2 separate regions of the Homo sapiens genome follow, and region 2 is reported to be linked to region 1. The links are microRNA targets in miRTarBase. Many come from high-throughput screens and were not tested one by one. Region 1 holds a microRNA gene; the other region holds the end of a gene's coding sequence.
What was found. Region 1 holds the annotated microRNA hsa-miR-548ap-3p (AAAAACCACAAUUACUUUU, at 3,263-3,281, shown strand). A microRNA usually pairs through its seed, bases 2 to 8, with sites in the 3' UTR of a target mRNA and lowers its output. Matches are read on the target gene's strand: a 7mer-m8 pairs with bases 2 to 8, a 7mer-A1 pairs with bases 2 to 7 and ends in A, and an 8mer does both.

Region 1 (5,385 bases):
TATTGTGGTAGAAACAACTCTTTTTGAAAGTATAATGATACCGCCCCACATAAATTACCTCTTCTGGCAAAGCGGAATGGGGTTTGTCAGAAGTTGCAAGTAGTAAAACTGGAGCAAATGAAGGAATATTCTGTAATAATGTGGTAAATGTGGCTTTAAGTGTCGGTCCAACTATTTCCCACCACACGTGGATATGAGGAACATACACTATACTTGGTGCTGTTCTCTTAGCTTCACGAATCACCTAGTAGAGAGAGAACAAAACAAATTCAGTTAGAGTCAGCACGTTAATAATGCTAGTTCTATTAGTCTGAAACAATGTTTAACCTCCCAGGAGTAACATATAAAGTCCTCAAGTTTTTAAAATGCTTCTCCAAAATCCCACAACCTTATTTTTAAATGTGGATTAAAAGTTTCATTTTTTTGGAAAAAGATAATTTCTTCAAGCAACTAGAAAACAGCTGGAGAAATCTAGAAGATTTTTCTATTGTGGTAATCAAAAGTAAACAAAACTACAAATATAAAATATTTTTATGTTTTAAAAATGTTAATATAGCCAGGCGCGGTGGCTCATGCCTATAATCCACGCACTTTGGGAGGCCAAGGCGGGTGGACTGCCTGAGCCCAGGAGTTTGAGACCATCCTGGGCAACATGGTGAAACCCCGTCTCTATTAAAATACAAAAAAAAAAAAAAAAAAAAATTAGCTGGGTGTGGCGGCATGCATTGCACCTGTAGTCCCAGCTACTCGGGAGGCTAAGGCAGGAGAATTGCTTGAACCCGGAAGGCGGAGGTTGCAGGGAGCCAGGATCGTGCCACTGCACTCCAGCCTGGTGACACAGTAAGACTCCGTCTCAAAAAAACCAAAACCAAAAACAAACAAAAAAAAGTTAATATACAAATACCAAAAACAGAAACTGCAGAATATCTGAGTACTTACTAAGGAGCAGTCACCATTTTAAGTACTTTACTCATTTAATTCTCACAACAGCCATGTGAGGTAAGTAGTATTATCTCCATTTTCCAAAAGGGGAAAATTAGAGAGATCTAACAACTTTACTAAGGTCACAAAGATATTAAGGGTGAATGTGGGATTTAAAGTCATTCTCTTTAATGACTAAGCAATCATGCATAACTCTGTTTTGTAAACCTAAAGTTACAAATCAGAAAGACAAAAAAACACAATACAAAAAAATGGGGCAATTTTAGCTTTTGCCTCTGAAAGCCTGTTTTGTCTTATACTTGGGCACCAACAAATTACCTGGGCACATGTTTCTTCAGGGGATGTAGTACTAACTCCAAAAAGAACAGGAATGTCTAATGTATATACAGTAAACTTTTCCAAAGCATGAATGACAGCTGGTGCCAAGTGAGAACCTTGCCCAAATCCTGGTTCTCCTACTATCAATATTCTTGGTCGAAAAGACATAGGTTGGTAACAAGCATTTCTGAAAGAGAAATGATTAATAAGCTATGTTTTAGAAAAAACAGTTTAAATTTTCCCCCTAAATTGTCAACTATAAACTTTCATAAGTAAAAAGTCTTGCCAATAAGGCCAACCAATCATAACATGGTTCACATAGTTTCTGGAAACTGACCCCCAAAGGTTTTTAGGAATATTTTTATAGACTGTAATTTCTACTGTTGTGACAACTGTAACAACAAAAAATTTCTGGTAGTTTAATTTAAATAAAAAGCAGATTGGTTAGCACTTTTTATTTTTTCAACCACATCTCATTTATTTTTAGAAAATTTACACATGCAAAAAACATTGATTTGCAAGAAAAATATACCTATTCAAATGAAGAAAATTAAAATTGTCTTTTGCCTTATGAGAAGATTTCTGAGAAAGTCCATTTTCATAAACTGATGGAACATCATCATCACTGTAAGCCAAGTCACTTTCTAGCAGAGGACAAGAAATATCTATAAAACCAAAAAATTGTACATTAGTAACTTTTGGATTGCAAAGCAAATCTTTATTGCTTCAGTTACCAAGTCAGCATACTTCAATTAAATTTTTTCAAAGAATCAAAAATATTTGTGTAGATATGAATTAATAAGTAAATGTAAAAATGCACCCCAAACTTACAATAAGTTAAATTAAGGGCAATCCATGGAGTAAATTTCCTTCAAATATCCCAGGTAAAGCATTACCAAATTCTTTTCAAGAGATTCTTTTACAAATAAATATTTCTGGTATGTATGAAACATTTCACTTTACTGATTATAAAAACTAACTTTAAATGGTCAATCAAGTTTTATACCTGAGTCTAATGTTTTATTTGTTCTGAATTCTGCATGTGGAAATACTCTCTGCAGGGCTTCTAAAATCTTGTCAACAGTGTTTTGCAGGAGTGGTTTCACAACGGTGGACAGTGCCTGCCCAGGTGATGTCACAGCTCTTTGGGAGGCTGGTATCATCTTTTGCATAGCTACCTCGAAATCCTTAGCTGAGATATTAATTGAAGAGAGATCCAACTGCAGTTTCTCACTAGTGGTATAGATCTGTGGGTAGCGTCGTCGTAAAGCACATAAAGCAGCTTCAGCACATATTGATTTAATATCTGCTCCACAGTATCCTATCCAAAGCAACCAGGGGAAGAAAAGAACCAGCCGACCAAACAAAGAAACACAAAACTCTATTAGCATGACCATGGTTAAAAAAAAAATTAAAAATCAGCCTCGGAATATAGTTAGCAAATATTTAAGAGTAATAAGACCAAAATCTCTTTTACCCAGTAAACTTATAGGGTAGTAATGGCCATCAACAATCAATCAACTTTTAAGAGTGCAATACACAAGCACTAAGTATAGCACAGAGGTCAAAAGCAAGAGTTTTAAAATCACACAGACTAGATTCACATTCCAGTTTGTAATTTACTAGCTGTATGACCTTAGAAGATTCACATAATGCTCTCCAGCCATTTCTTCATCTGTAGAGATACTGCTACCTACATCACAGGAATGATGTGAAAATTACATGAAATAATATATGTAAAATGCTTAAAAGGATGACTACAAAATGGTCAGTAAAGAATAGCTATTATCTTATTATGATATAATAATATATTGTATTTTGTACAATTATATTATTATCTACTCTGCCCCTGATGGCCAATTTGTCAAATATCTCTATTTAATACCAAGACTTCATGAGAAGAAAATGCCACAAATAAGAGATAAGAAACAAATATAACCTTGTATTTCTTTATTAGTCTGGTGCAAAAGAAACTGTGGTTTTTGCCATTACTTTTACAGGCAAAAACCACAATTACTTTTGCACCAACCTAATATAACTTGTTTCATATTTGAAATAAATGTAGTATTTATTTTAACTGCTTAAAACAATGTTTACCAACACAGTTTTCTGCTAGCTCTTCTAAAAATGTGTCCAGTGGTTTGGGATTCCAATCCCTGGTGTGAATCTTTAGAATCTCTTTTCGAGCCTATGAATAAAAACAATTTAATTTTTTACAACTATAATAATAAATGCTATTCAGATTACATTAATTTTGATTAAAATACTTTTGATTATCTAAAATTTTAAAGTGATCAGTACTTAATACTGGCCGGGTGCGGTGGCTCACACCTGTAATCCCAGCACTTTGGGAGGCCGAGGCAGGTGGATCACTTGAGGTTGGAAGTTCAAGACCAGCCTGGCCAACATGGTGAAAACCACTCTCTACTAAAAATACAAAGATTAGCTGGGCGTGGTAGCATGTGCCTGTAATCCCAGCTACTTGGGAGTCTGAGGCACGAGAATTGCTTGAATCCCGGGGACGGAAGTTGCAGTGAGCTGAGATTGTGCCACTGCACCCCAGCCTGGGTGACAGAGCAAGACTTTATCATAAACAACCAACCAAAAAAACTCAATATAAGCAAAATATGAAAGTGAAAATAAGAAAAAGGATGTACTTTTAAGAGTTTAATGAACTTAAGTCTCATTATTAAACATATTTGCATTTATAGCACTAAAGTTATATTCGTCATAAACACAAATAAGAGAAAAGTAACTACTAAAGTAGCTATTCATTCTGGTGCATATTAAGAGCTGTTTTTAAGAGTACAGACAGCTCTTGACATATTTTCCTCTTTGGTTCCCAGAAGATTAAGTAGACTTAAAAAAACTCGGTAGGATTATATGATGATATTCATGAAAAAGACAAGGCTAACAAACTGGCTAAGGATTGATTACTCATTAAGCCATATGTTCTGAAGCAACACTTAGAACATCCAAAGGCTACACTCAAATTGAAATAATTTTAAGAGTAATTTTGGGAAGGCATTATTATATTTAAAGAAAAGAATAAAAATTTGTCCCCATTTGAGTTGTTTACTATCATTTGACAAGACCATGATACAAAACTCAAGAATCTCCAAATTTTTACTATACCAAGACTTATTATTAATAAACAGCAATATATTTTGTCAAAATTTGAGTGACATTAAATTCTTACCTCTTTATCAGGCAGGCTAAAGAGGAATTCTCTATCAAAGCGACCAGGCCTTCGTAAAGCAGGATCTATAGAATCTAGCCTGTTCGTAGCACCAATGACCACAATTTCCCCTCTGCTGTCCAATCCATCCATAAGAGCTAGCAGGGTGGAAACAATAGAACTAAATTTTAAAAATAAGAGAGAAGAGATTAATACTATGAACACAGTCTATATCATTCAGTAATATTTCTTCTTTTGTAAGATTTAACGCATTACATGTGAATAAATTTTCTCAGGGCACCTCACTATTTCCAATGGATTAAAAAAATCTATAAAATAACATCCCAAATGGCCCACAGAAATTGAAATCAATGGAAAACAGACGGTTGTTAGACCCCCCACAAATGAATCCTAGAAGACATTTTATAAAGCATAATTTCACAAAGGAACTTAAGAGTTCTCAAACAATATATAACATCAAAAAGAAAAAAAAGGCAAGGCATGGTGGCTCACGCCTGTAACCCCAGAACTTGGGGGCTGAGGTGGGAAGAGTACTCGAGGCCAGGAGTTTGAGACCAGCCTGGGCAACATAGGGAAACCCCATCTCTATTAAAAAAAAAAAAAAAAATTAGCCAGCATGGTGACATGACCTGTGCCTGTAGTCCTACTACTTGGGAAGCTGAGGTTGTACGTAGTGAGCCAAGATTGCACCACTGCATTCCAGCCTGGGTGACAGAGCAAGACCTTGTCTCAAAAAAATAAAAAAGAAAAGAAAAAGAAAAAAAGTGCTGGTAGCACCAGGTAGGACACACAGTATCTAAAAATAATAAAATTTCCACTGTATATACATTATCAAAGGACACCAAAATAGAATATACATAAAGCATAACAGAATTTTCATTACATTTTAAACTTTTTATTATAAAGACAGAATAGTAAAATGATCT
Region 2 (5,385 bases), not on the chromosome of region 1:
TGAGCCTCTGATTCCCAAGAGGGTTGGTCTTATTCACATATCCCAAGTCATCTCAGAAGTTGATGGTAACAGGATGACCTTGAGCCAAGAAGGAGCACAAGATTCCTTCCCTCTTCAGCAGAAGATCTTGGTTTGCTCTTTGATGCTCTTGATCAGGCAGTTGAAAATCAAAGAGGTCACTCTGGGGAAGGTAAGTTGGGATGGAGCAGATGGAACGGAGGTAGAGATCAGAATCTGCTTTGCAGAGCAGGTATTTTCCAAAAGGCCTATGATACTTCAGCTGATAATAAATTTAAAATGGATTTTAACAGTAAGAATTAATACTGGTACTATATAAAAGGCACCTATTTCCCTTGGATTGTGGTTGAGAGTTTATCATTAATCCTTTCCCTATCCTCCCCTTCATTTCTGCATCTCTCTAGGAAATATATAAAGCCCCTTTCCTACATTACTGTATAGGTTTTCGGGAATATCTACAGAAGCCTGTTCAAAGATTTTATTGAAAAGAGGAAGAAATAGGGTATTCAGATAAGTTTTTGCAAACCCAGACTCAGGTTTCTTAAATGATTAAAGGCTATAAGCAATGTGACTTTTAAGCAGCGTTTGTTCTCCCTTGTTTCCTACCAGTTATATGAAGCCTACAGTAAAGTCTGTCGCAAACAGCAGGTGGCGGCTGTGGACCAGTCAGAGTGTTTGTCACTTTCAGGGCTCTTGGAAGCCAGGGGCATTTTAGGATTAAAGAGAAACAAGGAAACCCGTTTGACAAAGGTACAACTGCTTTTTTGTGACAGTGTTTTTAATTGTCCTATTTTGTAGAGTGATGCTAAAGTAAAGGTTTATTGTTAAACAAGATGACCACAGTTAGTTAAACAAGTCGTTTTTTGTTAGGTAAGGTTTAAGGTGTGTAAAGATGGGAGTGTGATATGAATATTTTTTCAAGCCATTGGAAAAAAAAGTGTTTAACTTGCTTGCCTTTTGTGAGAAAAAGTTTAATATGGTAGAAGTTTGTATACTGACAACTTTGCTTTTGTGAGTTCCCCAGTGTGAAAAATCCTTTTCTCTTCTTTCCAGGTGTTTTTCAAGATTGAAGAGAAAGAAATAGAACATGCTCTGAAAGATAAAGCTTTAATTGGAAATATCTTAGCTACTGGATTGCCTTAAATTCTTCTCTTACACCCCACCCGAAAGTATTCAGCTGGCATTTAGAGAGCTACAGTCTTCATTTTAGTGCTTTACACATTCGGGCCTGAAAACAAATATGACCTTTTTTACTTGAAGCCAATGAATTTTAATCTATAGATTCTTTAATATTAGCACAGAATAATATCTTTGGGTCTTACTATTTTTACCCATAAAAGTGACCAGGTAGACCCTTTTTAATTACATTCACTACTTCTACCACTTGTGTATCTCTAGCCAATGTGCTTGCAAGTGTACAGATCTGTGTAGAGGAATGTGTGTATATTTACCTCTTCGTTTGCTCAAACATGAGTGGGTATTTTTTTGTTTGTTTTTTTTGTTGTTGTTGTTTTTGAGGCGCGTCTCACCCTGTTGCCCAGGCTGGAGTGCAATGGCGCGTTCTCTGCTCACTACAGCACCCGCTTCCCAGGTTGAAGTGATTCTCTTGCCTCAGCCTCCCGAGTAGCTGGGATTACAGGTGCCCACCACCGCGCCCAGCTAATTTTTTAATTTTTAGTAGAGACAGGGTTTTACCATGTTGGCCAGGCTGGTCTTGAACTCCTGACCCTCAAGTGATCTGCCCACCTTGGCCTCCCTAAGTGCTGGGATTATAGGCGTGAGCCACCATGCTCAGCCATTAAGGTATTTTGTTAAGAACTTTAAGTTTAGGGTAAGAAGAATGAAAATGATCCAGAAAAATGCAAGCAAGTCCACATGGAGATTTGGAGGACACTGGTTAAAGAATTTATTTCTTTGTATAGTATACTATGTTCATGGTGCAGATACTACAACATTGTGGCATTTTAGACTCGTTGAGTTTCTTGGGCACTCCCAAGGGCGTTGGGGTCATAAGGAGACTATAACTCTACAGATTGTGAATATATTTATTTTCAAGTTGCATTCTTTGTCTTTTTAAGCAATCAGATTTCAAGAGAGCTCAAGCTTTCAGAAGTCAATGTGAAAATTCCTTCCTAGGCTGTCCCACAGTCTTTGCTGCCCTTAGATGAAGCCACTTGTTTCAAGATGACTACTTTGGGGTTGGGTTTTCATCTAAACACATTTTTCCAGTCTTATTAGATAAATTAGTCCATATGGTTGGTTAATCAAGAGCCTTCTGGGTTTGGTTTGGTGGCATTAAATGGCAATTTGTGACTGAGACACCAGAGGGCACCCTTATAACATTGACTACTTTGAAAGGGGATGCTTGAGGCTGAGGTAGTTTTGAGGGAAAGGGGGAAGTTCTAGTTTGATTTGTTTGGGAGATTGCTGTCCTTTCATAACTGAAGCAAATGCTTGAAATGTAAACCATGTGTGATACGAATGATCTGAGAGCCAGTGACCAAGTCTGCTTTTCCCTGAGCTCTCCTGCTGCCGCCTCTACCTTTCTGACATGGCCTTCCATTTGGAACTTGATATGTGTACAAGTGATCTGTTGGCCACTGTTTCATTCATCCTGACCACTGTATCCGTGTAATGTGATCTGAGCTACAACAGGTGGTATGGGATAGAGGCAAGGAAAGCAGAGAGAGCCCTCTGAAATGAACACTACCCACTGGTGTGTGTAGCACATGATAGTCTGTAGGCATGAGTCTGAATGTTGTTCTCACACTCCTTTACTAGAGTATTCGTTCCCTCTGAAGGTAGTTTGAACATGGAAACACAGTTCTATACCTAGAAGGTTGGAAAGTGTCTGGGACTATAAGGGTTAACATGCATAATTGCAAAGATTGTCCGAAGGCTGATGGAAAGCAGAGACTGAATGGGATTGAGAACAGATGCGAAGCTTGATTTAAATTACATTTTATTGGATGCTGCAGCCTTAAGAGACGTGACTGCTTTACAGTTTGTTTCCACACTGTGGGCAGCTGCTGTCTGTTCTGTGTCCACAGTAGGATCCTGCCCAATAAGGAGCAGCCTCCCCACCTCATTGTGTTTGAGGCTTGGCGCCTTCCTCTTAACTGTAGGGCTTGAGTCAGGAACATGGCTTGACTCGCAGTGGGGCTGCTATGTATCCTCCCTGGCTTCCAGCCAAAATCACATTGGTAGATTCAAAGGGGCCAAATTTCTTTCCCCTCTATCTTTCCCTTTCCCCTGGTTTTGGAAATAGAGTTTTCTGTCTACTGATTTGTTAGTTTCCTTTTCTTCTCCCCTCACTGTCAATTTCTAGGTCATTGCTGCTCTTAAGACTTTAGCAGTTGGAACAGGGTTGGTTCTGTCAATGATGCATGAAGCAGACTTAGTGTCCCTGCTTGGCTTCTGCTGCCCTTGTGGGAGCAAAAGCTGATATATGTTTGTCAGTAAAGTCTTAAGTGTAATTCAGACTGCTGAGGAAGAAAGCCCTTTCCTTGCTGGCTTTTCTCCCTGAAGCTGAGAGCTTCAGGAAGGTGGTAGGAGTTTTAGTGGGATGGGATGGGATGGGCTTGTGGTTAGCAGTTTTTGCCAGGATCATAGGCTGCTTCACTTAGAGTAGTGGCAAAGATGCTGACCTACATTCTTCCTTTTGAAGGTGATGGAGTGTGTGTCTATATCCTGGTTTATCTCTCTCCCCCACCCCAAGGAAGCTGATTAAGCTTCCATAGAGTGTTGGGTGTTGCCATGGAAAGAGCATAGACAAAATAAATTGTGTGTTTCAACCCCAGAGCTGCCACAGATGTTTCTGGCTCAATGGAGACTTGCCTGTGGCTAGCTAACTCTGCAAGAATGTGTGAGGTCCAGGCTGGGGGTGGTGGCTCACGCCTGTAATCCAGCACTTTGGGAGGCCGAGGCGGGCGGATCACCTGAGGTCAGGAGTTTGAGACCAGTCTGGCCAACATGGCGAAACCCTGTCTCTACTAAAATAAATTAGCCAGGCATTGTGGTGTGTTCCTGTAATTCCAGCTACTGGGAGGCTGAGGCAGGAGAATCGCTTCAACCTGGGAGGCAGAGGTTGCAGTGAGCCGAGATCGTGCCATTGCACTCCAGCTTGGGCAGCAGAATGAGACTGTCTCAAAAAGGAAAAAAAAAAATGCTGGGTGTGATGGCTCATGCCTGTAATCCCAGCACTTTGTGGGGCCAAGGCGGGCTGATCACTTAAGGGTCAGGAGTGCAAGACCAGTCTGGCCAACATGGCGAAACCCTGTCTCTACTAAAAGTACAAAAATTCACTGGGTGCCATGGTACACACCTATAATCACAGCTACTTGGGAGGCTGAGACAGGAGAATTGCTTGAGCCTGGGAGGTGGAGGTTGCAGTGAGATGAGATCATGCCACTGTACTCCAGCCTGGGTGACAGAGTGAGACTCTGTCTCAAAAAAAAAAAAAAAATGTGTGAGGTCTAAGCTACCCAGAGATCAAAAAGTTGGCAGAGCCTTATTCTCTCTGCGCCCCCTCTTTTGCATTGCTCCCTACCTTTACTAAGTGTCCCTTTGAATATACATCAAGCCAGGTGTGGTGGCTCATGCCTGTAATGCCAACACTTTGGGAGGAGGCAGCAGCGGGAGGATTACTTGAAGTCAGGAGCTTGAGACCAGCTTGGGCAATATAGTGAGACCCCCTTACCCTTCTCTACCAAAAAAATCTTAAAAATCAGCTGGGCATGGTGGCATGCACCTGTAGTCCTAGCTACTTGGGAAGCTGAGATGGGAGGATGCTTTGAGCCCAGGAGTTCAACTCGGCATGGGCTATGATCACACCACTGCATTACATCCTGGGTGACAGAGCGAGACCCTGTCTCTATAAAAGACAGAAAGCAGATACACCAATAAGAATGAGAAGTTGGGAATAAGATGTGATTTAGGTTTTATATATATATTATATACATATTATATATATTTTATATATATAATGTATATTATATATAATATACATATTATATATTATATACATATTATTTATATATATATATATATATATTTTTTTTTTAGATGGTGTCTTGCTCTGTCACCCAGGCTGGAGCAGTGGCGCGATCTCTGTTCACTGCAAGCTCCGCCTCCCGGGTTCACACCATTCTCCTGCCTCATCCTGAGTAGCTGGGATTACAGGCACCCGCCACCATGCCCGGCTAATTTTTTTGTATTTTTAGTAAAGATGGGGTTTCACTGTGTTAGCCAGGATGATCTCGATCTCTTGACCTCGTGATCCGCCCGCCTCGGCCTCCCAAAGTGCTGGGATTAGAGGCTTGAGCCACCATGCCTGGCCGGTTATATATTTTTTAAATATCTTGAGAC

Region 2: the mRNA of CDC6 is a reported target of hsa-miR-548ap-3p. Seed matches in the 3' UTR shown: 7mer-A1 at 1,706-1,712 and 7mer-m8 at 3,272-3,278.

Annotation. Positions count from the first base shown.
Region 1 is chr8:123,344,826-123,350,210 of GRCh38, forward strand. It overlaps MIR548AA1 (microRNA 548aa-1), which reads left to right and starts at 3,209; the gene lies at 3,209-3,305. ATAD2 (ATPase family AAA domain containing 2) reads right to left here. Exons shown (of 28, transcript NM_014109.4): 14 at 4,460-4,619; 15 at 3,358-3,448; 16 at 2,267-2,581; 17 at 1,793-1,925; 18 at 1,261-1,447; 19 at 59-244. It overlaps MIR548D1 (microRNA 548d-1), which reads right to left and starts at 3,305; the gene lies at 3,209-3,305.
Region 2 is chr17:40,300,841-40,306,225 of GRCh38, forward strand. CDC6 (cell division cycle 6) reads left to right here. Exons shown (of 12, transcript NM_001254.4): 10 at 1-190; 11 at 628-768; 12 at 1,072-3,817. The coding sequence ends at 1,161. Among named protein-coding and RNA genes, the nearest start is that of RARA, 5.6 kb to the right of the region's middle.